4 linked regions of the Homo sapiens genome follow. Changing the gene in region 4 together with the main gene of any one other region gives a genetic interaction. Each region holds a gene or a part of one and is shown on either strand. Other genes may lie near its edges.

Region 1 (7,496 bases), on a different chromosome or scaffold from region 4:
CGAGACTCTGCCCGCAATCCCGGCACCTCGGGAGGCCGAGGCTGGCAGATCACTCGCAGTCAGGAGCTGGAGACCAGCCCGGCCAACACAGTGAAACCCTGTCTCCACCAAAAAAATACGAAAACCAGTCAGGCGTGGCGGCGCCCGCAATGGCAGGCACGCGGCAGGCCGAGGCGGGAGAATCAGGCAGGGAGGCTGCAGTGAGCCGAGATGGCAGCAGTACAGTCCAGCTTCGGCTCGGCATCAGAGGGAGACCGTGGGGAGAGGGAGAAGAGAGGGAGGGGGAGAGGGCTATTTTTAAAATTTTTTAAAATTGCTGAACAGGGGTACCTCTGGGCAGTGTGTCAGAATACCACTTTTTAAATATTTTATGATTTATTTATTTTTCTATTTCTTGAGGTTTTAACTGATGTGTATCTGTATGTCTATTTGTGTATATTTTGTCATGATCATGTAACAGAGTCTGAAAAGTGTCGAAGAGACAGTTTTCAGGAACAACAAGCAATTATTCCTACTTTCCAAGTTATTTTGATGCCATGGTGGCTCATACCTATAATCTGAGTACTTTGGGAGGCTGAGGTGGACTGATCACTTGAGCCCAGGAGTTTGAGACCAGCCTGGGCAACATAGCAAGACTCCATCTCTACAAAAAAAGACAAAATTTAGCTGAGCGTGGTGGCGTGTTCCTGTAGTCCCAGCTACTTGGGAGGCTGAAGTGAGTGGATCCCCTGAGCCCAGAGAGGTCAAGGTTGTGATGAGCTGTGATCACACCACTGCACTTCAGCATGGGAGACAGAGTGAGACCCTGTTTCAGAAAAAATAAATAAATAAAACCACCAGCACCACAAACAACAACAAAAAGTTATTTTGTACTTGTTTTGAGCACAGGACTCCTGAGGGTATCTTTGCATTTAATATTACATAGGGGTGCCAGTGGGAAGTAATGTGTATGCTTGGCCTCATGAGCTAAAACCCTGTGTTAATTATGACAGAAGGAAAGTGTGTGAGAGAGATCTTAACTACCTAGCAGCTCTAGCTGCCATCTTGAACCATGAAGATACGGGCCACACGTAGGGGTAGCTGGGTAGTGAGCAGCAAGAAGCCTTGTTGGATGAGGGCACGAAGGAGCAGAATCACTGGAATCACTGTGTCAGCCCTAATTACCTACCTCTGGACTTTTATGTGAGGGGAAAAAAAATTGACAGTTTATATTTATCTCAACCTAGTTAACCCAAGTGATGCATTGTTATGAGATTAAAATGTTTGGAGGCCGGGTGCGGTGGCTCACGCCTATAATCCCAGCCCTTTGGGAGGCCAAGGCGGGCGGATCACGAGGTCAGGAGATCAAGACCATCCTGGCTAACATGTAAAACCCCGTCTCTACTAAAAATACAAAAAATTAGCCAGGCGTTGTGGCGGTCGCCTGTAGTCCCTGCTATTTGGGAGGCCGAGGCAAGAGAACGGCATGAACCTGGGAGGTGGAGCTTGCAGCGAGCTGAGATCTTGCCACTGCACTCCAGCCTGGGCGACAGTGCGAGACTCTGTCTCAAAAATAAATAAATAAATAAATAATAAATAAAATGTTTGGAATGTTGGCTTCATCCCTGGGATGCAAGGCTGGTTCAACATACGCAAATCAAGAAACATAATTCATCACATAAACAGAACTAAAGACAAAAACCACATGATTATCTCAATAGATACAGAAAAGGCCTTCAATAAAATTCAACGTTGCTTCATGTTAAAAACTCTCAATAAACTAGGTATTGATGGAAAATATCTCAAAATAATAACCATTTATGACAAACCCACAGCCATTATCATACTGAATGGGCAAAAGCTGGAAGCATTCCCCTTGAAAACTGGCACAAGACAGGGATGCCGTCTCACCACTCCTATTTAACATAGTATTGGAAGTTCTGGCCAAGAAAATCAGGCAAGAGAAACAAATAAGGGGTATTCAAATAGGAAAAGAGGAAGTAAAACTGTGTTTGCAGATGACATGATACTATATCTAGAAAACCCCATTATCTCCACCCAAAAGTTCCTTAAGCTGATAAGCAACTTCAGCAAAGTCTCAGGATACAAAATCAATGTGCAGAAATCACAAGCATTCTATACACCAACAATACACAAGCAGAGAGCCAAATCATGAATGAACTCCCATTCACAGTTGCTAGAAAGAGAATAAAATACCTAGGAATACAGCTAATAAGATGTGAAGGATCTCTTCAAGGAGAACTACAAACCACTGCTCAAGGAAATAAGAGAGGACACAAATGAAAAAACATTCCATTCTCGTGGATAGGAAGAATCAATATCATGAAAATGGCCATACTACCCAAAGTAATTTATAGGTTCATTGCTATTCCCATTAAACTACTATTGACATTCTTCACAGAATTAGAAAAAAACTACTTTAAAATTCAAATGGAACCAAAAAAGAGCCCGTATAACCAAGACAACAATAAGCAAAAAGAACAAAGCTGGAAGCATCACACTACCCAACTTCAAAGTATACTGCAAGGCTACAGTAGCCAAAATGGCATGGTACTGGTACAAAAACAGACACATAGACCAATGGAACAGAATAGAGACCAGAGAAAGAAGACCACACATCTACAGCCATCTGATCATCGACAAACCTGACAAAAACAAGCAATGGGGAAAAGATTCCCTATTTAATAAATGGTGCTGGGAAAACTGGCTAGCCATATGCAGAAAATTGAAACTGACCCCTTCCTTACACCTTATACAAAAATTAACTCAAGATTAAAGACTTAATGTAAAACCTAAAACTATAAAAACCCTAGAAGAAAATCTATTTAATACCATTCAAGACATAGGCACAAGCAAAGGTTTCATGACAAAAACATCAAAAGCAATTGCAACAAAAGCAAAAATTACAAATGGGATCTAATTAAACTAAAGAGCTCCTGCACAGCAAAAGAAACTATCATTAGAGTGAACAGGCAACCTACAGAATGGGAGAACATTTTTGCAATCTATCCATCTGACAAAGGTCTAATATCCAGAACCTACAAGGAACTTAAAACAAATTTACAAGGAAAAAAACAACCCCATCAAAAAGTGGACAAAGGACATGAACAGACACTTCTCAAAAGAAGACATTTATGTGGCCAACAAACATATAAAAAAAAGCTCAACCTTACTGATCATTAGAGAAATGCAAAGGAGAACCACAATGAGATACCATCTCATGCCGGTCAGAATGGTGATTATTAAAAAGTCAAAAAACAACAGATGCTGGCGAGGCTGTGGAGAAGTAGGAACACTTTTACATTGTTGGTGGGAATGTAAATTAGTTCAACCGTTGTGGAAGTGTGTGTGGCTATTCCTCAAAGATCTAGAACTAGAAATACTATTTGTCCCAGCAATCCCATTACTGGGTATATACCCAAAGGAATATAAACCATTTTATTATAAAGATACATGCACATTTTTGTTCATTGCAGCACTCTTCACAATAGCAAAGACACAATAGCAAATGCCCATCAAAGATAGACTGGATAAAGAAAATGTGGTACATATACACCATGGAATACTGTGCAGTGCAGCCATTACAGCTTTTGGTGATACAGTGAATCAGATTTTTCATTAATTCTTTTAATTGGTTATTACTGAACGTGAAAAAGTAATGTTTGTATTGAAATCTTGAGTCTGGCCATGTTTCTATTTTAAATTCATAAAGAATTCTAACAAGAGGAATTCCAAGAATGTCATAAATGGATGTTTCTCCATGGATGAAGGAACTGTTTTATTCACTTGCTGATAATTCAGCCTAATCCAGTTTGACATCATATAGATAAGTAGTTGAATTATGGATTTAAAATACATATCATTTTCTAACTCCAAAGGTAATACTTATTTAAATGGTTTTGAAAATATAGAAAGGCACAATTTCTTTTTAAATCTGTTATTCTCCACCACCACTCAATCTGTCTATCATCTATCTCTCCATTCATTCTTCCATTTGTTTATATCTGTTAATCTTTGTATGTGTTCATGTATAGCTTTTACATGATTGGAATCATAATGCATATTCCATTTTGAAGTCTGCTTTTTTTTACACAAAAATATGTTGTGAATATTTTCCTATATTATGAAATATCATTAGCTGAGCTTTTAGAATTGACTGCATGTTTTGGTACCATTTAGATATAGTTTAAGATACTTAGAAGTTATGTGGCTTTGCCACTATGGATGAATCTTATTTACTCAATATTAATTACTTACAAATAACCTCACCTAAACACTACTCAGCCATAAAAAGGAATGAATTAATGACATTCACAGCAACCTGGAGACTATTACTCTAAAGGAAGTAACTGAGGAATGGAAAACCAAACATTGTATGTTCTCACTCATAAGTGGGAGATAAGCTATGAGGATGCAAAGGCATAAGAAGGATACAATGGACTTTGGGGACTTAGGGGAAAGGGTGGGAGGGGGGTGAAGGATAAAAGAATACAAATTGGGTTCAGTGTATACTGCTCAGGTGATGGGTGCACCAGAATCTCACAAGTAACCACTTAATTACTTACGCATGTAACCAGATACCACCTGTTCCCCAAACACCTATGGAAATAATTTTGTTTTTTTTTTTAAAAAAGGAATGAGATCATGTCCTTTGCAGGGACATGGATGAAGCTGGAAGCCATTATCCTCAGCAAACTAACAGAGGAGCAGGAAACCAAACACCACATGTTCTCACTTGTAAGCGGAAGCTGAACAATGAGAACACACGGACACAGGGATGAGATCAACACACACTGGGGCCTGATGCAGGGGCCGTAGCGGGGAGAGCATCAGGATAACTAGCTAATGCATGTGGGGCTTAATACCTAGGTGATAGGTTGATAGGTGCAGCAAACCACCATGGGACACGTTTACCTATGTAACAAACCCGCACATCCTGCACTTGTATCCAGAACTTAAAATATTTTAAAAATCTTTAGAGAATACAAAAAAAAAAAAAAAGATTCTTCAATGCATACACAATAAAATTGCAGTTCAGTCAAACATTGGAAGTCTTTCTCTGACTGTCTAGTTGGTATCTTCATTTTCAGCTTCTTCAAGATCCCACTCCAAACACTGTTAGCTCAGCCAAATTGAACAGCTCATATCTCCTACCTCTGGATCTTTGGTTCTGGTGATTGTATATTTCTGGACCATCTGGAACCCCAGCATATCACCCTACCCCACATCTCCACATCCCCAAAATATAACCATACTTCAAGGGCAGTTCAAATACCATCTCCTTCTATCCTCCATGAAGTCAGTTATCTCTTCCATTGGAATTATCGCCCCCTCTCCTGAACAGTACTATTTCGTGTGAATCTCCTCCAAGCCTTCTTTTCATTTTATATCTCATGCTGTAATTCTTGGAAAGTATGCTGTAGCTCAAGTGCAGAATTCTCATCAGTTTTATCTTTATATCTCTCCTAAACACTTTACCTGATGAAGAGCCTGGCATACACATAAATATATATTGAATGAATCAGTGATGGATTGAAAAGAGAAATGATGGATCTCCTAAATTTTAACTTTTATAAAATATTTTGATACATTCATGACCTTACTTTAGCAAGCAATGAACGTGATGTAAACTATTGTTGATATAGTTTTTATATTGGAAGTGTAAGTAGTTTGTGGCATGGGATTGTGACATATCCTAGGTTTCCTCATCTTCTTTTTATTGAAATGTAATTCACAAGCCATAAAATTTGCCCCTTTAAAGTAAATGATGCAGTGGATTTTAGTATATTTACAGAGTTGTGCAATCATCACCACTATCTAATTCCAGAACATTTCCATCTACCTAGAAACTCCATACCAGTGAGCTGCCACTCTAATCCTCCTCTTCCCCCAGCCTCTAGAAACAATAATCCATTTTCTGTCTCTATGATTTGCCTGTTCTAGATATTTTATAAAAATAAACATGTGGCCTTTCGTGTCTGACTTCCTTCACTTAGCATGTTTCAAGGTTCATCTATGCTATAGAGTGTACCAGTGCTTCATTACATTTTATGGCTGAATAATACCCTATTGTGTGGATATACCGCATTTAGTTTATTCATCAGTTGATCGAAATTTAGACTGTTTCCACTTTTTTGCTATTATGGATGATGCTGCTATGAATATTCGTATATGAATTTTTATATGGATATATGTTTTCAGTTCTTCTGGGCATATACCTTAGAAGTGAGAGTGCTCATCATATAGTAACTCTATGTTTAGCCTTTTGAGGAACTGCCAAACTGCTTTTCAAAGTAGTAGCATCATTTTATATTCCCACCAGCAGTGTATGAGGTTTTTTTTATTTTTTTGTTTTTGAGACGGAGTCTCACTCTGTCGCCCAGGGTGGAGTGCAGTGGCGTTATCTTGATTCACTGTAACCTCTGCCTTCTGGGTTCAAGCCATTCTCCTGCCTCAGCCTCCCTAGTAGTTGGGAGTAGCTGGGTTTACAGGAGCTCGCCACCATGCCCAACTAATTTTTGTATTGTTTTTTGAGACGGAGTCTCGCTCTGTGGCCCAGGCTGGAGTGCAGTGGTGCAATCTCAGCTCACTGCAAGCTCCGCCTCCTGGGTTCATGCCATTCTCCTGCCTCAGCCTCCCAAGTATCTGGGACTACAGCCGCCCTCCACCACGCCCGGCTAATTTTTTGTATTTTTAGTAGAGACAGGGTTTCACCGTGTTAGCCAGGATGGTCTCTATCTCCTGACCTCGTGATCCGCCTGCCTTGGCCTCCCAAAGTGCTGGGATTACAGGCGTGAGCCACCGCGCCCAGCCAATTTTTGTATTTTTAGTAAAGACAGGGTTTCACCATGTTGGCCAGGCTGGTCTCGAACTCCTGGCCTCAGGTGATCTGACTGCCTTGGCTTCCCAAAGTGCTGGCATTACAGACATTAGCTACTGTGCCTGGCCTCAAGTCCTTTCTCATTTTAAAACTGCGTTATTTTATTTTATTTTTCTGAGATGGAATCTCACTCTGTCGCCCAGGTTGGAGTGCAGTGGTGCAATCTCGGCTCACTGCAACCTCCACCTCCTGAGTTCAAGCGACTCTCCTGCCTCGGCCTCCCTAGTAACTGGGATTACAGGCACCCACCATCACGCCTGGCTAATTTTTGTATTTTTAGTAGAGACAGGGTTTCGCCATGTTGGCCAGGCTGGTCTTGAACTCCTGAACTCAGGTGATCTGCCTGCCTCGGCCTCCCAAAATGCTAGGATTACAGGCGTGAGCCACCACACCCGGTGGGTTGTCTTTTTATTGTTGAGTTGTAAGCATTCTTTTTAATATTCTGGATACTAGTTTCTTATCAGGTACAATCTTTGTGAATATATTCTCCCATTCCATGGATTGTCTTCTCACTTTCTGGATACTATACAGTACAAGTTTTAAATTTTGATGAAGTTCACTTGATTTCTGTTTTTTATGTTATTGCTTATGCTTTTGGTGTCATACCTAAAAAACC
Region 2 (8,112 bases), on a different chromosome or scaffold from region 4:
GGTGATACTTGCAAGGTGCTTGGCAAATGCCTCGTACAGAGTTGAGCGCTTGGGGCTGGCTACCAGGGCTGCCACATACAACAGGCTGGTTGGGTACCTCACAGCAAGTCCTCAACTCCTATAGATTAAACTGTGAATGGTGCCCCTGGAATGGCAGTGTGACCACCCTGTTAGCTGCTATTAACAATCACTATTAATAAATCCCATTCCTAGTCCTAGATGGAGCCTTCTCATCCTCAGAAACCACACTGGTTAAATCAGTGGATCTTAACTTTGGCTGCATATCGGCATCACCACAGGAAGTTTCAAAAATTCCAGTGCCTGAGTCCCACCACAGGGATTCTGATTTAATGGGTTTGGGGGGCGGCTTGGCTTTGGGGATTTTTAAAAGCTCCCTAGGTGATTCCTAGAGTCAGCCAACTTTGCAAACCATGGAGTTAAAAACCCAAAACACAAACTTATTTGCTTCGGTCCTGAAGGATCTCAGCTGACTGTAGTTGGCCTGGTTATTGTGAGCAAATCTGATTAAGGTCACAGTTCTTAGCAGCTGTGTGATCTTGGGATGGTCTCTAACCTCTGGGATGCTCCTCTGTAGAATTGTGATGCTGTGAAGATTGGATGAGCTAAAGAGCTGGGCATGGGGTGGAGGCCACCAGTAGGCGACAGCTATTGAGTGTCTTGCATGACTATAGGATGGCAAATAATTCTCAATATGCAGTTTATGGGACTGATGTTGTTTTTCCTGGGGTGGGGATAATAAGGGGTCTGAGGAAAGATTTGGAACCCCTTGCTTGGTTCCTCCCTGGTTCTGTTGGTGACCCAAGAGGTCCCAGAGCTCCTTGCCACAGGCTCCACAGGATGTTGGCCCCACACCAGGCAAGGCTCAGCAGAGATCACTGCTGCTCCCACGGAGAGTGCACCGGGCCACTGGGGCATGCATGGCTAATGCAGGGTGGCAGATTTGAAACCAAACACTGGTGCCTGCAGCCACAGGAGAGAGTAAGGAGAGACAGAAGGAGAGCTGCACTGATGGAGTCTCGGGGCCCAGTTCGTCTTGACAATAGCCATGGGACCCCAGGCTGTCTAAGGCCTCAGTGTCCCTTCCACTTGCCTCTCCACTGTTCTGGTAGTCATGTTTCTGTCTTCGATGGCATCAGTTGTAACAAATGACACATAAGCCAGTAAAGCAATGGTTAAAGCAGATGTTTTAGTGGAGACAGAGTGGGTTTGATTCATGGTGGCAATCCTTCCCAGCTGTGTTACCTTGGGCAAGTAGCTTAACCTCTCTGAGCCTCTATACAGCAAGGATAACAGCCTATTCATGGAGCAGTTTGGAGGGTGAAGTGATACAATGGCATGATGTGCTTAGCCCAGCGCCTGGCAGAGTGATGCTCACCGAAGACAAACTATGGTACTTCTGTCCTGAAGAAACCCTGTGGTCACCACTAGAATTTGATCTGGATCTCTAAATCACCCTTGGAGGCAGCCAGTGGTACCCTGTTTTATAGATGAGAAAACTAAGGCTCAGAGAGGCCAAGCTACTTGTCTCGATACACAGAGAGTAAGCAGCAAAGCCAGGACCTTGGACGCCAAATTCAATGCTCTTTCTACCTCTCCACTGTCTTCAAGGTGCAAAATGTCTTTTAGTTGACAAAGCAGGGTTATGTCCCTTTTCTCTCTCTAGATAGTCAAGAAACCCCAATGAAGAGGCTGTGTGAGCCCATTTTATAGATAAGAACATGGAGGCCTGCTAACTTGAGGACTCCTAGCCTACGTGAAATGCAAACTCTCACTGGGGAGCCCCAGCCTGGCCCTAGCAGCTTTGGGCTTAAGCTAGAGTCCACGGGCCTGTCTGGCCTCAGGCTGGTCTCTGTTTAGGAGAGGACCAGCTGGTGGCCTTCCCTCCTGTGCCCCCACTTCCTCATTACTGTTCAAGCTGCTGGGTTCCGAACACATTCAGAACCCTCTTGGTTCAGCATTTAATGGGATGCCAGGGCAGAGGAGAAGAGAGGCTTTCAAAATAACGACTGGCAAAGGAAAAACAGGCATTCAGTAAAAGTGACAAGCACGGTCACTGGATTTCCTGACCCTTCTGGCTTTTTTCCTCTCCATGGGGAAAGTGCCTATTTGTATTTCACTGGCCAGCAGCCAAAGAACAGTGTATCTCGGAGCCACCTCCAGATCTCCCAGCAGCTTCTGGTCGATGCTCGGAAGCCCCCAGCAGAGCTGCTTGTCCATTTGGATGCAATGACTCAAGGCTGACTTCCTGAACATTTTGCCTCAGGTCCGTTGCAACTTCCTACCTCGGAAGGAGAATGTTGGGTGGACATTTAGGATTTTGAACCAATTAAATAGCAGAGTCCAGGGCTAGACATGGAGGATACTTAGCAAGGTTAGTGGACAGCATTGTGCAGTTGATCTGGAACAAGCATCAGCAGACCTGGAATCCCTGCTGGCTCATTAGTGGCATGATGTCAGCCACTTTACCTGGCAGATGCCTCTGCAGGGAAAATTCCAGCAGGTACTCACCACCAACAGAACTAAGAGGGCCACTCAGGATCTAAGCCACCCAGAGATGCAGGCGTGGGGGCTGCCTTGAAGCTCAAAGCTACTTGGGTTTGGTAGCAGTTTCAAAAAGTGACACACCCAATCCTACAGCTCTTGATTTCTGGCCCAATCTCAGACTTGCCTTGTATTGCAAAGTCCTAAAGCCAAATTCACCAGAAAGGCAGGCCCTTCACACGTTAACCTGCGTGCACTATGTGCCATGCACTGTGCTAAGCACCTAGCAGCCATATCTCATGAAATATGAAATTCTTACGACAGACTGAAGAGGTGGGTACTGTTATTATCCTCTTTTTACAGTCAAGGAAACTGAAGTTCAGGGAAGTCATCTGATTTCCCCAAATCACACAGCCGGTGAAGGAAAGAGCTTGAATCTGAGCCAAACTCTGAAGCTGAAATCTGTGTTCTGTCTGTTGTGCTGAGAATTAAACCCCCATACTGTGTGATAATTGACTTAGGTGAGGCTATATCATGCATTAATTCAGATTCACCTGAGGATGCAGCAGAAAAAGATCAACAAGAATGCAGGGCTATGCCAGGGGGCTCGCTTCTTTGTCTCCTACCCTTTTCCGAAACCCAGGGTGCCTGGAGGCATCTCCCGTATCATTTTATGGATGCTGGGACATAGCCCGGGTACCTAAACTCAAAGCACTCAGGTCCACTGACAGCCCACTTCAGTGTACCGGGTCTGCCCTCCTTCCCTTCCACCTCCTCCCGAACGGCACCGCTCTCAACAGCAGATGAAACAGAACAGAGATGGTCTTACTTCTCAGGTCGAGTCCTTGGGAAGGGAAGTCAGGAGCGTGTTGCTGGGTTCCTCACTCCACCGGGAAGTCCCAGACTAGCAAGGAGGGCTGCCTCTAGAGGGCGGTTCTTAAACCCCTGGGAACGGAGGCTGCTGAAATGTGCCAACAAGTGAGACAGCCTTTGCATTCCTGTTTATTCTGGTATCAATAAAAAGGAACTGTTACTATAGTAACAGATATTCCACTTGGTGCACGGCCACTTCCACGATGCGGAACATCATGTCCAAGCCACACGCTTGAGAGGCACAAATAAATACCCATTTTGTCAGATTGATGAGGAATAAGAAACACGCCAAGCTTTGTTCTGAGCAAGGCGGCTCACGTAAAGGAATTTCCCTTGTTTCTTATGGGAGGGTCAGGCAAGAGTGGATTCCAGCACTTCCCCATGGGAGGGGAAGCCAAGCTTCCTGAGGCAGTGGTGTGGATTCTTCAGGAGAAAATGGCTCTGGGGGGAAAAGGGTGGGGTGTAAAGGGAGGGGAAACTGCTCAGCATTGGGTCAGTTCTTAATTATCCACGAATGGGTCAGAAACTCCGTACACAGCGTTTTCCTGATACCTTGAATGTCATTGGAACTTCACAGAGGAGCCAACGGAAGAGCGTGGGAGAGGGGATGCACCGTGTCTGGGTCTCAGCAGGCTCATGTGTTGGCCCTGGCTCCAGCACCAGCCCCTTCAGCAGCCACTCAGTGTCTCTGTGTCTTGGTTTCTGTGTTTGTCAAATGTGGAGCATACCAGGGTGGTTGGGAGATGACATGGATGAGATGACATTAGTGAAGCACATAGTCAAAGCTCAGCATATAGGACTTTTCTCCAAGAGAGACCTGGACTCTACGTGATCTGAGGCCAGAGCCCAGCATGGTGCATTTTGCCTGGCAGAATATGTGTTCCATAAGTAGTGGCTCAATGAATGAACATGTGAATGTAAAATATAAAAGTAGGCCAGGCATGGTAGCTCATGCCTGTAATCCCAGCACTTTGGGAGGCTGAGGTAGGCAGATCATTTGAGGTCAGAAGTTTGAGAACAGCCTGGCCAACATGGTAAAACCCTGTCTCTACTAAAAATACAAAAATTAGCCAGGGGTGGTGGCACACACCTGTAATCCCAGCTACCTGGGAGGCTGAGGCAGGAGAATTGCTTGAACTTGGGAGGCAGAGTTTGCAGTGAGCCAAGATTGGGCCACTGCACTCCAGCCTGGGTGACAGAGCAAGACTGTCTCAAAAAAACCCAAAAAACAAACAAACAAAAAAACCCAAGAAAAGTAAAAAATGTATGTAGATCCTTAAGGCCAGCCTGGATGCTTATAGATAATGGAGGCATTCTCCTAATTTCAGAATCAGCTTTCACTTGAAAAGCTGGAAGTGTTTTCTATCGTTTAGTGTCATCCTAGTTCCCCAGTGAGGAAGCTGGGGTCTACCAGTTAGACCAGGCCTCCACCCCAACTTTACTTTCTCATGGAGTCTTGGTTGGCTAGAAGGTGATGAGGCCTAGGACATGCATCACAGGTGAATGGAGGCTTTAACAAGGCAACCTTGTGTCTTCTTTGGCCTATATTATTTGTTCATTTAACAAACATTTATTTAATTCCTACTGTGTTCCTGGCACTGTTCTAAGTGCTGGGGGTACCATGTGAATGACACAGGTAATATCCCTGCTGTCAGGGAACCTACCTTCAAGGGGGACACACAGTAAAGAAGGGGACATTCAGGATGACGTCAGGCAGTGAGGAATGCCGTGATGAACGCAAGGCTGGGTGAGGTGAGAGCGGGTGGTGTTTTAGGGTAGCAGAATCACAAGGAGTCAGTTGTGTGAAGTCTGTACACATGGGAGAGTCTTCGTAGGGTGGGAAGAGCCAGTGGAAAGGCCCAGACTGGGTGGATCCTGGTGTGATGTAAAGGCAGGCTGGGTGCCATCTTGGGAGTGAGGGAGGTGGGAGACAGGGGTGGAGTGGGAGGGACAGGGCAGGCATGTCCAGGGAGTCTTGGCCACGCTGACCATTCTCGAGCCACTTAAACTAAGAGGGTCCTAAATTCTTGGGTATAAAACAATTTTCTGGAAACAATGTGTGGTCCCTTTTTTTCTTCTTCCCCAATTCTGCATTTCTTGAGGCACTATGAATGGTAGCCCCCTCAGCCTCCCACCCTGCTCTGCCTTAACTTCCCCAAACTCTCCTGGTAGAAGAGGACAGCTAGATTCTTGTCAAACCACTCTTTGCTGACCCTGGTTCCTTGCACACATCCTCCTGCTCTGCAAAGAAGTATTTTGAATATTTCCTAGGGTCTTTGGTGGCTCAGATGAACCAATCCCAGTGCCTTCTAACAGTTGGAGAGTAAGAAGGATCCTGGAGCGGGGGAACTTCTGACAGCTCCTGCTCATCCCCGGAGAAGACAGAAGCCCATCACCTGGTACACTTCAGAGGAACACGCACCTGACAGCCAAGGAGAACTGGGCAGTAGTCCTCGGATGTTGGGCGTCATTTTCCGTGGGCAGTTGGGAGTCACTGTGCTTCTCCCACAAAAACTCTTCTCACAGTCCAACTTGTATACAAACCCATCAGACTGCTAGCCCCAGGGCAGGTACCTACCTATCTTCCTGTCCCAGTACTGAGGGGCTCAATAACTATTGTTAACCTGAAGACACCGAAAACCTTGACAGCGCTGAGCTTGTTACAGCACCATCTTGCTGTGTGTCCATGTGCAGGTGCAACTGTACGTGAGATCAGCGGCCAACCACCACCCTTTCCCAGGCCACACTCCATCAGCAAGAGACTATGCTACACCCCAAGACGAGATGCAGCCAATAAACATGTCTATGTATTGACCTGAAAAAGATGTCTTCTACATATTCAATGAAAAATCATATGTAGTAGGATCTCTTTTTTTTTTCAAGATAAAAAAGTTGGTATATGTATAAAGAACTAGTGTGGAGGCAAATACACTAATCTGTTAGCAGAGGTCAACTCTAGATCAGTGTATCTCAAATACTATTACTAGATGTCATTTGAAATGAGTGCTAAAAATGCTCTTGCTTTTTTTTTTTCCTAGGGAGGAACCTAGGAATCTGGATTTTTTTTTTTTTTTTTTTTTTGAGACAGAGCATTACTCTGTTACCTAGGCTGAATGCAGTGGTGCCATAATGGCTCACTGCAGCCTTGACCTCCTGGGATCAAGCGAGCCTCCCACCTCAGTCTCCCAAGTAGCTGAGACTACAGACACATGCCACCACACCCAGCTAATTTTTTATTTTTTTTAGAAATGAGATCTCACTGTGTTGCCCAGGCTGGTCTTGAACTCTTGGCCTCAAGTGTTCCTCCTGCTTCAGCCTCCCAAAGTGCTAGGATCACAGGAATGAAGCCACCATGGAATCTGGATTTTAAACATACCTCTCTGGGGGCTCATTTATATTAAAGAGTTTGAGGACCATTGTTCTACAGCGTAAAATTACAGGCCCTTCTCCTTTGTCACTGCATTTCTGTGATGTTTGCGGTGTTAAAAGAAAAAAAAAGGCCCTAGCATATATTACTTTTGTTATCAGAAAAAGACTCTAAGAATTAAAAATGTGAGAAAGAGCAACATTTCCCAAACAACTGTAGTTAGTTAGGAATCACATCTGGCTCAGTTATGTCATCAGAATATGGGAAAACAGAGGCCCTCTGAACAAACAAGCCTTTGAGGCGTTTACTCCAGGTAATTGCATAATTCAAGCCACAGTCGCTGTCTCCTGCCTCCTTCTGTGTGGCTTTCCCTGGAGGTCTTCCTATTCTTCCAAAAGGAAGGACTCTGGGAAGCCAGGGGCCTGGGGATCTGCATACTTGCTCGGCCCCCTGGTGAGCTGGGGCATCAAAGGGGGAAGCCCAGGGGCTGGGCACACCCCTCCTGTCTTCCCTCCCATCCCCTTTTAACTCTGATTTCTTGGGAACCAGAGGAACCCAAAGGAAGGGGGACAGGGAAGACCAGGGGAGGCAGTCCTGACAGGGAGGTGGAGAATTTTCCTGCATCTATAGTGGGCTGGGCTGCAGTGTGCAGAAAATAACCTCCCCAAACAGCTTTTGTTTCATTTTTGCCCCCTTTCTCCAAGCCCATGGGCGCCTAGAACAGCTTATCTGGGCCCACGAACATCAAACAAGAAGTTTCCATGGCAACTTAAAACTTCCTCCTCAGCCCTGTATTCAGTCTAAATCTCCAAGGCCCCTTTTCAAGGCCTCAATGGGGTTTCTGAGCAGCCACCCACAAAACAGCCCTAGGATTAAACCGTGCCCCCCGCCTCTCAAACATGCTCTGCAGAAAGGACTCGGGGGTTGGGGGAGAAGAAGCTGTGCTGGCAGAAAGAACCTGTCATGGGATCTGTGGAGAGATTATAAAAGGAATGAGAGTCGCCTTTACAACAAGTTTGAACCGGGAAGAATTTACCCAGTTGAGGGATTTCAAGCGTGAAAATGGGAAAGTGAGAGGGGGTGGGGAAGAACTTAGAGTCTTGTTTCTGAAAGCTGGCTCTCCACCCAGCTGCAATTAGACATGGTTAATTTGGTCTCTTAGCTGCAGAAGGACCCTGGGGTACCCCCATCCCCAGTACATTTTAATTCCCTTGTAATCAGACAAGAAGCACAGTGAGTGAATCTATGGATGGTGAGAGGATGTGAGAGGGAGCATGTGTGTGTGTGCGTGTGTGTGTCTGTTTCTCTGTGTGTGTGTGTATGTGTGCGCGCATGCATGCAGGAGAACCTGGGCAGACCACAGCTGTCAA
Region 3 (7,496 bases), on a different chromosome or scaffold from region 4:
GAGGGCGTTCTGGCCAGGTCCCCCTTCCTGCGTTGGGGACGGGGGCTCCATGCGCTGGAACATGAGGGGTGTCCGGTCCTGGGGAATGGGGCAGAGAGCAGTGTGTGGACAAGGGTGGGGTGGTGGGACGGTGGTACCCAGAAGGCATTGCGACATCCCCAGTATACACACACACACACACACACACTCTCTCAGGTCTCATCCATCTAGACCCTTCCAATTCCACGCAGAACTGGACCACTTCTCACTCCTCCACCCAAGTCATAGCCCCAGCCTGGTCCCACGTCCTCATCTCTCACTGCAGGCACCTTCTCCCAGGTCTCCCGCTCCTACCTTCAACCCCACTGTTCCACAAGAGCCACCAGAGGGCGCCCATGAGCACTTGAGTCAGGTCCTATCCCTCCTTTGCTTAGAACCCTCCATGGCTCCCACTTGCTTGGGGAAAAAGCCAGAGTCCTTCCTGCAGCTCCCATGGCCCTGAAGGATCTGCCCTGTCACCTCCTTGCCCTTGTCTCCTCCCTGCTCTTTTCCACCACACTGGCCTCTTTGCTGTTACCCAAACAACCCAGGCACGGTCCAGCCTCAGAGCCTTTGCACTGGCTGTTTCCTCTGCCTGGAACACCCTTCCAGGTATTGCTTAGCTCACTCCCTCTCCCCTTTTCCTTCAAGCCTTTGCTCACATGTCACTTTCTCAGGGAGGCTCCCCAACTACCCATTTCCCACCGCATCCCCTCCTCCCCTGGATACTCCTATCTTCTGGATTCTTCTCCACTTTCCCCCACGACACTTTCTTTCTCTTTGCTGGATGTTGCACGATTCAGTCATTTGCTACCATTGGCATTTCCCCACTTGGAATGTCTGCTCCCTGAGGGCAGGGATTCTGGCCTATTTTCCCCATGGGTGCATCCCCGAGGACTGAGAACAGCGCCCTGCACACAGTAATACTCAATAAGTGTTGGTGGAGCAGCTGAATGAAGAATGAATCCACATGATGTGTCCTTGGCAAGAACTTTTTTTTTTTTTTTTTTTTTTTTTTTTGAGATAGAGTCCTGCTCTTATCACCCGGGCTGGAGTGCAGTGGCTTGATCTTGGCTTGCTGCAACCTCCACCTCCCAGGTTCAAGTGATTCTCCTGCCTCAGCCTCCCAAGTAGCTGGGACCACAGGTGCATGGCGCCACATGCAGCTAATTTTATTTTTTTTTTGTAGAGATATGGGTCTTTCTATGTTGCCCAGACTGGTCTCCCACTCCTGGCCTCAAGTGATCCTCCCATCTTGGCCTCCTAAATAGCTGGGACTACAGGTGTGCACCACCATGCCTGGCTAATGTTTTATTTTGTAGAGATGGAGTCTCACTGTGTTGCCCAGGGTGGTCTCATCCTGGTCTCAAACGATCCCTCTGCCCTGGCCTCTCAAAGCACTGAGATTGCAGGTGTGAGCTGCTGTGCACAGCCCCTACTTTTCAGGGACCTGCCCTGGGGCTCAGCCACCCTCATATTCCAGTTGGTTCCCGTGGTGACATGCAAGCCACTGTCCCCAGCCCAGATGTCCCCAGAGCGGCGAACAGCGCACCTGCTCCTCGCGCATGGCCTGCAGCTTCTTGGCCTTGCTCTGCCGGTAGTACTCCATGATCATCATGGCTGCGTAGATCTTCCCCACGGTGAGGTCCGTGGCTGGGGGCACACACACGGTGAGCTCACCAAGGGCAGGCCTCTTTGGGGCCCTTGTCCTGGGTCCCTGTGTATACCAGCCCAGGCCAACACTCTCCCCAGGCCTCCCCTTTCCCTCCCCCTCCATCTGTCCTGGTGGATTGGATCCCAGGGCTGGGCTCAGCTCTTACACTTGTGAGGTGTGACCAGCAGGTCTAGCGTCTTCTGGGACAGATTGGGCCAAATCGCCATCATCTCCTTCCGCAGCTCAGCGTCCATCTGCTGTTTGTCGGCTCCTCCTGCAATGGGGGTGTAGACAGACCCTGACTGCCTGCCTGGGTGTCAGCTGGACTCTGGGTCAGCTGCAAAGCCATAGGCTCCCGAGAACGAGACCCCAATCTTTCTGGTCCCCATGGGGTCTCCAGTTCCCCAACGGCCTGGCCCAGAGGAGGCCCTGGGCAGTGCTGCTGGAATGACCTTGTGGGCTCTGGTTTTCGGTGGGGCCAGGACCATGGAGCAGCTGTGCAGGAGACAGCCCGGCATGGAGAACAGCTGGGCGACCTGGGTCCCAATCTTGTCTCCCAGTTATCGGCTGCATGACTTAGGTTACTCTACCACTTAGTAACTCAGTTTCTCCATCTGTGAAATGGAGATGATAGCAAGAGTACTTGCCTCACCTGGTTGTTGTGTGTGTGTGTGTGTGTTTTTTTTTTTTTTTTAGACAGAGTCTTGCTCTGTTGCCCAGGCTGGAGTGCAGTGGCACGAGCTTGGCTCACTGCAACCTCCGACTCCTGGGTTCAAGCAATTCTCCTGTCTCAGCTTCCCGAGTAGCTGGGATTACAGACATGCACCACCATGCCTGGCTAATTTTTTGTATTTTTAGTAGAGACGGAGTTTCACCATGTTGGTCAAGCTGGTCTCGAACTCCTAACCTCGGGTGATCCACACGCCTCGGCCTCCCAAAGTGCTGGGATTACAGGCGTAAGCCACCGCGCCTGGCTGGTTGTTTTTTTTTTGTTTTTTTTTTGAGATGGAGTTTCACTCTTGTTGCCCAGGCTGGAGTGCAATGGTGCAATCTCAGCTCACTGCAACCTCTGCCTCCTGGGTTCAAGCGATTCTCCTGCCTCAGCCTCCCGAGTAGCTGGGATTACAGGTGTGCACCACCACGCCCAACTAATTTTGTATTTTTAGTAGAGACGGGGTTTCACCATGTTGGCCAGGCTGGTCTCAAACTCCTGACCTCAGGTGATCCACCCTCCTCAGCCTCCCAAAGTGCTGGCGATTACATGCGTGAGCCACCGCGTCTGGCCTGTTTTTTTTTTTTTTTTGACAGAGTCTCTCTCTGTTCCCAGGCTGAAGTGCAGTCATGTGATCTCGACTCACTGTTACCTCCGCCTCCCAGGTTCAAGAGATTCTCCCGCTTCAGCTTCCTGAGTAGCTGGGACTACAGGCACGCACCACCATGCCTGGCTATCACCTGGTTGTTTGATGATCAAAGTAACGTGCGTGCAGCCTTGGGACAGTGTCTGCCATAGGATTATTACTGCAGTGACCCATCTGTTCAAGGCTGGGACGCCCTGGAGCATCCCCAACAGAGGAAGTTTTGGTTTTGGTTTTATTTTGATTTTTGAGACAGGGTTTTGCTCTGTCGCCCAGGCTAGAGTGCCGTGGCACAAACATAGCTCACTGCAGTCTCGACCTCCTGGGCTCAAGATCCTCCCACCTCAGCCTCCCAAAGTGCTGGAATTACAGATGAAAGCCACTGTGCGTGGCTCAGAGGAGGTCTTTTCCCCTTTCCCAAGTCTCCACTGCCACGGACATGCCCTTGGCCTGCAGCCAGTCCCTCGTCCCTCACCCCAGTCATGGGGTGAGTCATTAAAGCTCTCTGACGGTGTTTCCTGGCCCTCCTACCTGAGTACATGGGGGGGTTCCTCCTGTGGTTGGCAGGGCCATGTGATGAGTCCTTGCTAATGGGGTGTGCACCATGTAATGTGCCACTTTGGGGCCAGAGCATTTATTATTATTTTTATTATTGTTATTATTTTTGAGATGGAGTCTCGCTCTGTCACTCAGGCTGGAGTGCAATGGCATGATCTCGGCTCACTGCAACCTCCACCTTCAGAGTTCAAGCGATTCTCCTACCTCAGCCTCCTGAGTAGCTGGGATTACAGACATCTGCCTGGCTATTTTTATATTTTTGTAGAGACAGGGTTTCACCATGTTGGCCAGGCTGGTCTCGAACTCCTGACCTCAGGTGATCTGCCTGCCTCGGCCTCCCAAAGTGCTGGGATTACAGGCATGAGCCACTGTGCCTGGCCTATTATTTTTTTTAAAAATTTATCTATCTATCTATCTATCTATCTATCTATCTATCTATCTATCTATCTATCATCTATCTATCGATCGACAGGGACTTACTCTGTTGCCCAGGCTGTGGCACAATCTTTGTTCACCGAAGCCTTGAGCTCCTGGGCTCAAGCAATCCACATTCTGACAGTCAGAATGTCACTGTGGGCTGCTATTTGGATATGCTAACTGGGTTTACGTTTAATATGCTAATTGGTTCAGGCAGGTAGTTGGCTCTGCCCTCAATGCCTGGGGTGGGGGGCTTGAAAGAGGATAGGGTCCAGCCTGGTCAACATGGTGAAACCAGTCTCTAGTAAAAATGCAAAAATTAGCTGGGCGTGGTGGCGTGCGCCTGTAATCCCAACTACTCGGGAGGCTGAGGCATGAGAATCGCTTGAACCTGGGAGGTGGAGGCTGCAGTGGTGAGTTGAGACTGCGCCACTGCACTCCAGCCTGGGCGACAGAACGAGACTCCGTCTCAAAACAATACAAAACAAACAAAACCAAAACCAAAATAGAGATTCTTCTGGGCAGAGAGAACAGAGGGGTGGGTGGGAGAGAGAAACAGATGGACAGGGAAGAGAGAGAGAGAGACAGAGACAGAGAGAATGAGATGGACTTGCCCCCTTTCTCCCAGTCTCCAGCAATGAATGGTGACACCATTTTTGAGAATCTGAAGAATGAGGTTAATCTGTACCCCCTTTGCAGCCCCTTAGCCTGCTGGAAAGGAAGCTCAGTGTGCTTAGAAAGTGAGCTGAACTATGAAAAGAAAGCGCGTTATGTTCTCCTGAGACCCGCATCTGCTCAAAGGGCTGCCACTGTTATCACTCTTCCATTGTTGTCCCCACACCCTCTTGACCTTCCGTAACCCCGAGAGCCTGGCTCAGCTGTGGAACTCCAGGATGAGGCCTGGCACCCACTGAGGACAAGAGGTGGAGGGGCTCCTGGCTGAGAAATCTGGGGGATCATTGTCTTCAGGGAACTGAGTGGCATCTGGGGTACAAGTAACAACTGTGACAGCCAAATTCAGAGACATCTCCAGGAGTCTTTGAAACCCTCAGGAAGGGAATCCAGTAGGTGTCATAGAAGCTGGGGTGCTAAGCAGTAAGGACTAGCTCAGTAGGCTAGTGTTGTCCAAACCCTGCACATTCCGATGAAAGGACTGGCCCATTGACTTGCTCCTGGGAGGTGATCTCTAAGCCTTTGAAATGTCCTGCCTGAAGAGTGTCTTTATTTAGCAGGGGGCCTTGGGCCACACTGTATAGTTCATTCTTTTTTTTTTTTTTTTTTTTTTTTAAAAAAAAGAGATAGGGTCTCACTATGTTGCCTAGGCTGGTCTCGAACTCCTGGCCTCAAACGATCCTCCAGCCTCAGCCTCCCAAAGTGCTGGGATTATAGGCATGAGTCACTGTACCCGGCCAATACAGTTCATTCTATTTATTTATTTATTTTGAGATGGTGTTTTTGCTCTATTGCCCAGGCTGGAGTGCAATGGTGCGATCTTGGCTCACTGCAACCTCGGCCTCCTAGTTTCAAGTGATTCTCCTGCCTCAGCTTCCCCAGTAGCTGGGATTACAGCCGCCCGCCGCCACGCCTGGATAATTTTCCATACAGTTCATTCTAACAATGCGATTTATCGTTGGGGTCTTGGGCCACGTGGTATCAGTTTGACCTCTGGAGGGACTGGAGACTGAGTAACTACGTCAGCCCTGCCTATATGACAAACCCTCAATAAAAACCCTGGGGCACCAAGGCTCAGGTGAGCTTCCCTGGTTGGCAGTACACGGTGCGTGTTGTCACACACTGCAGGGAGAATTAAGCGTTGTCTGTGCAACTCCACTGGAGGCAGACAACTGGAAGCTCGCACCTGGTGTCTCCTGGACCCTTCCCCAGATGCCCTTCCTTTGCGCATTTTATGTTTTTGGAATTTGTTTGTTTGTTTGAGACAGAGTCTTGCTCTGTTGCCCAGGCTGGAGTGCAGTGGCGTGATCTTGGCTTAATGTAGCTCTATCTCCTGGGTTGAAAGGATTCTTGTGCCTCAGCCTCTGGAGTAGCTGGGACTACAGGTGTATGCCACCACACCTGGCTAATTTTCTTTTTGGACAGAGTTTTGATCTTGTCACACAGGCTGGAGTGCAATGGCACAGTCTCAGCTCACTGCAACCTCTGCCTCCCAGGGTCAAGCGATTCTCCTGCCTCAGCCTCCTGAGTAGTTGGGATTACAGGGGTCTGGCACCATGCCTAATTTTTGTATTTTTGGTAGAGACGGGGTTTCGCCATGTTGGCCAGGCTGGTCTCAAACTTGTGACCTCAAGTGATCTGCCCGCCTTGCCCTCCCAAAGTGCCAGGATTACAGGCGTAAGCCACCATGCCAGGCCCTTTGCAGATTTTTTTTTTTTTTTTTTTTCTAATAGAGTCTCACTCTGTCCAGCCTGGAGTGAAGTGGCGGGATCTCGGCTCACTGCAACCTCTGCCTCCTGGGCTCAAGTGATTCTCCTACCTTAGCCTTCCAAGTAGCTGGGATTACTGGCGCCAGCCACCACGCCTGGCTAATTTTTGTATTTTTAGTAGAGACAGGGTTTCACCATGTTGGTCAGGCTGGTCTTGAACTCGTGACCTCAAGTGATCTGCCTACCTCGCCCTCCCAAAGTGCTGGGATTACAGGCGTGAGCCACCGTGCCCGGCCCTTTGCAGATTTTAATCTATATTCTTTCACTGTAATAAACTGTGAGTATAAAAACTTTTCTCAGTTCTGAGTTCTTCCAGGGAATCACTGAACCTGTGGGTGGTTTTGGGACCCCTGAACACAGATTCTCAGAGTGCCACAGAAGCTGAGTTACGATGGCATTACATACAAAGAGTGGGGGTGTTGTTAGACCCGTTGTACAAACGAAGGAACTGTGGTAGGCAGAATTCAAAAGCTGCCCTTCTGCCAAGATTCTGTTTATTCAAACACTAATCTAGGGACCATTGCCCAGGCTATGAAGGGACTTTGCAGATATAATTAAAATACCGGAGGCCCGGTGCGGTGGCTCACGCCTGTAATCCCAGCACTTTGGGAGGCCGAGGTGGGCAGATCACGAGGTTGGGAGATCGAGACCATCCTGCTATCATGGTGAAACCCCGTTTCTACTAAAAATACAAAAAATTATCCGGGCGTGGTGGCACGCATCTGTAGTCCCACCTACTTGGGAGGCTGAGGCAGAATCACTTGAACCCGGGAGATGGAGGTTGCAGTGAGCCGAGATTGCGCCACTGCACTCCAGCCTGGGTGACAGAACAAGACTCCGTTTCAAAAAAAAAAAAAAAAAGAAAGAAAATGCTGGGCATGGTGGCTCACTCCTGTAATCCCAGCACTTTGGGAGGCTGAGGCGGGTGGATCACCTGAGGTCAGGAGTTCAAAACCAGCCTGGCCAACCTTGTGAAACCCCATCTCTACTAAAAATACAAAAAAATTTAGCTGGGCGTGGTGGTGGGCACCTGTAATCTCAGCTACTCAGGAG
Region 4 (7,496 bases):
TCTGGTATGTCCTCAAAGATAGAAGATAATGCAAATAATATACAAAGAAACTATTTGTCATCAATCGGAAAGTTAAGTGAATATCGCAATTCCCTAGAATCAAAGCTGGACCAAGCATATACCCCTAATTTTTTGCATTGCAAAGACAGTCAGCAGCAGATTGTGTGCATAGCGGAACAGTCAAAGCACAGTGAAACTTGTTCTCCGGGAAATACAGCTTCAGAGGAAAGCCAAATGCCTAATAATTGCTTTGTAACTTCCTTGAGAAGTCCAATCAAACAAATAGCATGGGAGCAAAAGCAAAGGGGCTTTATTTTAGATATGTCAAATTTTAAACCTGAAAGAGTAAAACCGAGGTCGTTATCAGAAGCAATTTCACAAACCAAAGCACTTTCTCAGTGTAAAAATCGAAATGTGTCAACACCTTCAGCATTTGGTGAAGGACAGTCTGGACTGGCAGTTCTAAAAGAATTGTTACAAAAAAGACAGCAGAAAGCACAAAATGCAAATACTACACAAGACCCATTATCCAATAAACATCAACCAAATAAAAATATTTCTGGTTCCCTTGAGCATAACAAAGCAAATAAACGGACACGATCGGTAACGTCCCCAAGAAAACCTCGAACTCCCAGAAGTACAAAACAAAAAGAAAAAATCCCCAAACTTCTCAAAGTAGACTCTTTAAATTTACAAAACTCTAGCCAGTTGGATAACTCTGTATCAGATGATAGTCCCATCTTTTTTTCAGATCCAGGCTTTGAAAGTTGTTACTCACTTGAAGATAGTTTATCTCCTGAACATAATTATAATTTTGATATTAACACAATAGGTCAGACTGGATTTTGTAGCTTTTATTCTGGAAGTCAGTTTGTCCCAGCTGATCAGAATTTGCCTCAGAAGTTCCTAAGTGATGCTGTTCAGGATCTTTTTCCAGGACAAGCTATAGAAAAAAATGAGTTTTTAAGTCATGACAACCAGAAATGTGATGAAGACAAGCATCATACCACAGACTCAGCCTCATGGATTAGATCTGGTACTTTAAGTCCTGAAATTTTTGAGAAGTCAACCATAGATAGCAATGAGAATCGTCGCCACAACCAGTGGAAAAATAGCTTTCATCCTCTAACAACTCGGTCTAACTCAATAATGGATTCTTTCTGTGTTCAGCAGGCAGAAGACTGTCTAAGTGAAAAATCTAGATTGAATAGGAGTTCAGTAAGCAAAGAAGTGTTTCTTAGCCTCCCACAGCCAAACAATTCAGACTGGATTCAAGGTCACACCAGAAAAGAAATGGGACAGTCTCTTGACTCAGCCAATACCTCTTTTACTGCAATACTCTCCTCCCCTGATGGTGAACTTGTAGACGTGGCCTGTGAAGATTTAGAACTGTATGTTTCAAGAAACAATGATATGTTGACACCAACTCCTGATAGTTCACCAAGATCTACTAGCTCTCCTTCACAATCTAAAAATGGCAGCTTCACCCCTCGAACTGCTAACATTCTGAAACCACTTATGTCCCCCCCAAGTAGGGAAGAAATTATGGCAACTTTGTTGGATCATGACCTGTCTGAGACTATTTACCAGGAACCATTTTGCAGTAATCCTTCTGATGTACCAGAAAAGCCCAGGTAATCAGTTATTTTTTCCCTTGGGTCACTCTGAATTATTATGATATATAAAATTATGCTATGGGGATTGAAAAAAAAAGAATGTATGCAACATTTGGTTACCTGACTGCTAGTTTTCTGTGATACCGTATTTGTAAGTATATCATTGTGGAAAGTATTTCTAATTACAGACTTACTAAGAAAATTCAAAAACTAACTGGATGGTTACACCTAGAGAAATTTATTTAAGTTGACTTGGATCTACCATTATTTAACACTATGTCTTCATTAAAGATTAGAGGTGCTCACTGTAAAGATGTCATGATACTTTAAAAGGATTACAATGATCATTGTTTAAATGGTATTTAATTTTTAAATGTTAAACTTTTATACCATTTTAAAAGAACTTCATTTTCAAGTGTTTTGAAAATGAGCATGTATGTGTTTTAAGTATTCCTCTGATATATCTCTAAGTGAAGATTATTGTAAGTTGTTTCTATTATAAACCACTTTTCATGTGGTTTCAATATCTTGTATTATATTGTTATTGTTATTATAGTTTATGCAGTTATTAGCAAATGGACTTTGGTTTCCATTCTCCTTTCTTTTAAGAATTTTTTCAGGTGGCTGGGTATGGTGGTGTGCACCTGTAATCCCAGCACTTTGGGAGGCCGAGGTGGGAGGATCGCTTGAGCCCAGGAGTTTGCGACCAGCCCAGGCAAAATAGTGAGACTCTCTCTCTACAAAAAATTAGGCCGGGCACAGTGGCTCACGCCTGTAATCCCAGCACTTTGGGAGGCCGAGGGGGGCAGATCACCTGAGGTCAGGAGTTCAAGACCAGCCTGGCCAACATGGTGAAACCCTGTCTCTACTAAAAATACAAAAATTAGCTGGACATGGTGGCAGGTGCCTGTAATCCCAGCTGCCTAGGAGGCTGAGACAGGAGAATCACTTGAACCCAGGAGGTGGAGGTTGTAGTGAGCTGAGATCACGCCACTGCACTTTGTTGCCTGGGCAATAAAGAGTGAAACTCCATCTCAGAAAAAAAAAAAAAAAAAGATAGCTGGGCATGGTGGCATGCACCTGTGGTCCCAGCTACTCAGGAGGCTAAGGAAGGAGAATCACTTGAGCCCAGGATGTCAAGGCTGCAGTGAGCTGTGTTCACGCCGCTGCATTCCAGCTTGGGCAATAGAATGAGACTTTATCTCAAAAAAAAAATCTCTTCAGGGAATTGATAGACAAACATGTGAGCGCACGCACACACACAGCAAATAGCAAAATAGAAATCAGAGTACTGGTTTATTTATCAGTAGTTAAGTAGTTATGGTGTATACCACTTTCATCACCAAGTTAGGACATAACTGATGAAAGCTAAATTGGGTAATGTGGCTTAATCCAGAAAGTTTAAATGATGGCTCTTGTTCCTGCCCTTGTGTCCATGATCTCATATACTTAACCAGTTGCAGAGCAGGCAGTTCATTTCAGCCATCCATTCAGAAGCAGAAGAGGATGGCTGGAACTGCTAAGGCAGGCCCTGCCTTAGTCTAAATCTTGGAAAGAGATAGGAAAAGCAGCAGAGGACACACTGCATGTATGCACTGACCTGTGGCAGTACCATGTTCCTGACTCCAGTGGGAAAAAAAAAAAAGAAAGATACAATATGAATATTACACATTTGTTCAAAGCCATAGAAAGTACCACACCAAGAACAAACCCAAATGTAATCTGTGGACTTTGGACAATTATGATGTGTCAACATAGGTTCATCGATTGTAACACATGTACCACTCTGGTAGGGGATGGTGATAATGAGGGAGGCCATGTATGTGTGGGGGCACAAGGGATATATGGGAAACTTCTGTACCTTCCTTTCAATTTTGCTGTCAACCTAAAGCTGTTAAAATATCTTTTTAAAAAAGTTTAAATTAAAAAAACACGACAGTGAATGCCAGGCTTTTACCCAGCAGATTCACAATAATTCCTATAGGAATCCATTTAAGAAAGGGTTGAGAATGTGAAATGATGGATATGTTAATTTGTTTCACTGTAAGAACCATTTTACTATATACTAATATCATATTTTATACCTTAAATATACACAATAAAATTTATTTTTTTAATAAAGGGGTGAGAAAAGGTTATCAGAAATGCAGAATAAAAGTTCTCTCCTGTAATGACTTGAAGTGAAAGGTAGAAATGTCCACCTCCCAGCCCCTTTTCAACACACAGTTTTGTTTAGTACCCACATGGAACTCTTTATTTCACTGCTGGAGCATATGAAATCTGTTCTTTAGACGTTAGTTTCCATCATTTTGGGGACTTTGGTGTTATTAGTAGTGATTATGGTATATTTACTTTTAGTTACCAAACTTTATGTGCTAGTCATTACCTTTGTGTTGTTGTTATTGTCCAACTTTGACACTTGTCCTGCAGCTAAAATAAAAAATAATCATTTTTGAAAAATATTTTTGAAATATGAAACTGTAGGCCGGGCACGGTGGCTCACGCCTGTAATCCCAGCACTTTGGGAGGCCAAGGTGGGCAGATCACAAGGTCAGGAGATCGAGACCATCCTGGCCAACATGGTGAAACCCCATCTCTACTAAAAATACAAAAATTAGCTGGGCATGGTGGCATGAGTCTGTAATCCTACTCGGGAGGCTGAGGCAGGAGAATCACTTGAACCAGGGAGTCAGAGGTTGCAGTGAGCTGAGATCGCACCACTGCACTCCAGCCTGGTGACACAGCAAGACTGTCTCAAAAAAAAAAAATGAAACTGTATATTCAATATAGAAAATTTAGGAAGTATGAAAGAAGAAAAAATAAAAATTACATCATTTTTCCATGTAGTAACAGCCACCATAATATTTTGATGTGTATTCTGTTTTCTTTTTTAAAAAGTATAGTTTTTAGTTTGTTTTGTTTTGTGAAGTGTGATCTTACTATAGTCACAGTATTATATCCAAATTTTTCACTTAACATTATATTGTAAACATTTTCCAAATGAGTTTCTTGAATATTTTAATCGCTGCATATGTTGCATCATGTATATATTATTGGACAGAAAGGTTGTTTGCAATTTTGCCACTATAGATATTATGTATATTATTATGTATGTTAAGAAGATATTAGCATTTTCTTCTTAAAGCATTTCTTGTATTTTGGAGTTTTTCCTTATAGCCCTAGAAGTAGGATTACTGAAAAATTTAAGGCTCTTGATACATATTAGGAGATTTTTTTTCCCAGTGGGTTATAGCAATTACCATGCTGCTGACAATATGTAAGAAAACTGAATTCACCACACCTCACCATTTTTTTTTTTTTTTTTTTTTTTTGAGACAGAGTCTGGCTCTGTCACCCAGGTTGGAGTGCAGTGGCGTGATTTCGGCTCACTGCAAGGTCCGCCTCCCTGGTTCACGCCATTCTCCTGCCTCAGCCTCCCGACACCTCACCATTTTTTATTCTTGACCTCATTATGACTTCTCTATCCTTAGTATTAGAGTTGGGTATGGTCACTTGGTATGTGTATTCATTTCCTTCAACAGCATTAATTCTGTTTCTGTTTTTTCACATTGCCAAGAGTGGATGCAGGGACAGTGCTGGATGCTGGTTATGGAGTTAACTAGTAGGGGCTTAAGTCTTTTCATATAAAGGAGACAGAGTAGCCCTAATGCTCTTCTTTCAGCTTCAAATCTGAAAACATGATCCAGTTAGTGGATTTTACATAGAGAGTGATGGGGACATTTGGGGAATCATGCCCTAAGAGAAGTGATTGAAAAAACTATGAATTAACTTTATATCCATAATAAAGTTAACATGAAGAAGTAGAATTATTTTATGTTGCTGTAGTAAGCAGAAATAGTATCAAGGGATTGGAGAAAGACAGAGGTTTCACTTAATATTTATAACTATTGGAAATGAAACCAGACTGTTTTCATTAGTGATTTCCCACATATTCATGCATTGGTAACATTTAAGCCATGCATCCTGTGGGCTCTGCCAGCTCCTAAGTTATGTCAGTGTTAATCCCTGCCATGGAATGGGAAGAAAGAATTAGAGTAATTTACCTCAGTTGGTATTTTTTTTAATGTTTAAGGGAATTTGAGAGTACGAAGATTCATTTGAATTGACTGGCTTTGTTAAACTACAGATACTGGAGAATATAGGAAGAAGCTATGAATAATATCCAGGGACATAGTATTTGAATGATAAATTCATTGTTTTTATTCATATGTGGTAATAATGGAAAATTTATTTTAAGATTAGGAGAGGAAAGGAATCTGAAAAGTTTGTGTCATCTCCTTGAAGGACAGAAGGCTTCATGGGGCATTAAAATAAAACAAAAAATACCTTCTCTCCCTAAGATTAATGGTACCTTCCAAAGGAAATTAAGTAGTAGTCATATACCTGTGAGGAAAAGCATATTGAGACTAAAGATAGAATGTACCTGCACAATATAGAGGGGGCAGGGAAGATAGACATGGACATTTTTGAGACTCCAAAAGGGACTTTATCTAGGATATGGAGTTAAATATTTTGGTAATTGCTCTTTGAAACAAAACAGTTGTTCTAAAATATGTTATTATAGGGAGATTGGTGGACGGCTCCTCATGGTAGAAACTCGACTTGCAAATGATCTGGCTGAGTTTGAGGGAGACTTTTCCTTGGAAGGACTTCGTCTTTGGAAAACAGCATTCTCAGCAATGACTCAGAATCCAAGGCCAGGGTCACCCCTTCGCAGTGGCCAAGGAGTTGTCAATAAAGGGTCAAGTAATAGCCCTAAGATGGTTGAAGATAAAAAAATTGTGATTATGCCTTGCAAATGTGCCCCAAGTCGACAACTGGTTCAAGTGTGGCTTCAAGCCAAAGAAGAATACGAACGTTCCAAGAAACTGCCTAAAACCAAGCCAACTGGAGTTGTAAAATCTGCTGAGAACTTTAGCTCTTCAGTTAACCCAGATGACAAACCTGTAGTGCCTCCAAAAATGGATGTAAGTCCATGTATACTCCCCACTACAGCACATACCAAGGAGGATGTTGATAATTCTCAGATTGCTTTACAAGCACCAACCACGGGATGTAGTCAAACTGCAAGTGAAAGTCAGATGCTGCCACCAGTTGCCTCTGCAAGTGATCCCGAAAAAGATGAAGATGATGATGATAACTATTACATTAGTTATAGCTCCCCTGATTCTCCAGTAATTCCCCCTTGGCAACAACCAATATCCCCAGATTCCAAAGCATTAAATGGAGATGATAGACCCTCATCACCAGTAGAGGAGCTGCCTTCATTGGCTTTTGAGAACTTCTTAAAGCCAATAAAAGATGGTATACAAAAAAGCCCCTGCAGTGAGCCTCAAGAGCCTCTAGTGATATCTCCAATTAATACTAGGGCAAGAACTGGGAAATGTGAATCACTTTGCTTTCATAGTACACCAATCATACAGAGAAAACTTCTGGAAAGGCTTCCTGAAGCACCTGGCCTTAGCCCATTATCAACAGGTAAGTGTACAAATAACAGGAAGTCTCCATAATTGTTCTTCAGAAATAGAAATGAAGATAACATTAGACTGTAATGAAAATCAGAGCTTTTTAAATGAAGGTATAGCTCAGCAAATATTTTTCGTCATGTCTTAGAAAGTCGTCACATGGCAACTGTCTTTCTGCTGTGAAATCTACTTATATTTGCTTCCATCCTGTCTTGTGGGTGAAATGCAGGAGCCCTCTCAAAAGGCTTATCTTCTCAACTTGACTTTCCTGTTGGCTTTTATACATACCCAGGTCTCCCACATTTTAAAACAGAAACAAAAAACCTGCCTTGACCTCACGTCTCCAGCCAGCTTCTACTCTTTCTCCTCCCCTTCAAAGCCAAATTTCTTAAAA

The links.
Region 1: changes in REV3L (region 4) and CFLAR impair growth when combined (synthetic growth defect), as found in Homo sapiens cells (one large-scale study listed by BioGRID).
Region 2: changes in REV3L (region 4) and FAM107A impair growth when combined (synthetic growth defect), as found in Homo sapiens cells (one large-scale study listed by BioGRID).
Region 3: changes in REV3L (region 4) and CACNA1A impair growth when combined (synthetic growth defect), as found in Homo sapiens cells (one large-scale study listed by BioGRID).

Annotation. Positions count from the first base shown.
Region 1 is NC_000002.12:201,166,694-201,174,189, forward strand, and holds part of CFLAR (CASP8 and FADD-like apoptosis regulator), read left to right. Parts: 3' UTR 1-7,496. UniProt on the Homo sapiens protein: Apoptosis regulator protein which may function as a crucial link between cell survival and cell death pathways in mammalian cells. Acts as an inhibitor of TNFRSF6 mediated apoptosis.
Region 2 is NC_000003.12:58,573,978-58,582,089, forward strand, and holds the start of FAM107A (actin-associated protein FAM107A), read right to left. Parts: upstream 3,415-8,112; 5' UTR 3,332-3,414; intron 838-3,331; exon of another isoform or gene 1-837. UniProt on the Homo sapiens protein: Stress-inducible actin-binding protein that plays a role in synaptic and cognitive functions by modulating actin filamentous (F-actin) dynamics. Mediates polymerization of globular actin to F-actin. Also binds to, stabilizes and bundles F-actin.
Region 3 is NC_000019.10:13,212,663-13,220,158, forward strand, and holds part of CACNA1A (voltage-dependent P/Q-type calcium channel subunit alpha-1A), read right to left. Parts: intron 1,947-7,496; coding exon 1,839-1,946; intron 1,672-1,838; coding exon 1,571-1,671; intron 79-1,570; coding exon 1-78.
Region 4 is NC_000006.12:111,366,734-111,374,229, reverse strand, and holds part of REV3L (DNA polymerase zeta catalytic subunit), read left to right. Parts: coding exon 1-1,634; intron 1,635-6,201; coding exon 6,202-7,115; intron 7,116-7,496. UniProt on the Homo sapiens protein: Catalytic subunit of the DNA polymerase zeta complex, an error-prone polymerase specialized in translesion DNA synthesis (TLS). Lacks an intrinsic 3'-5' exonuclease activity and thus has no proofreading function.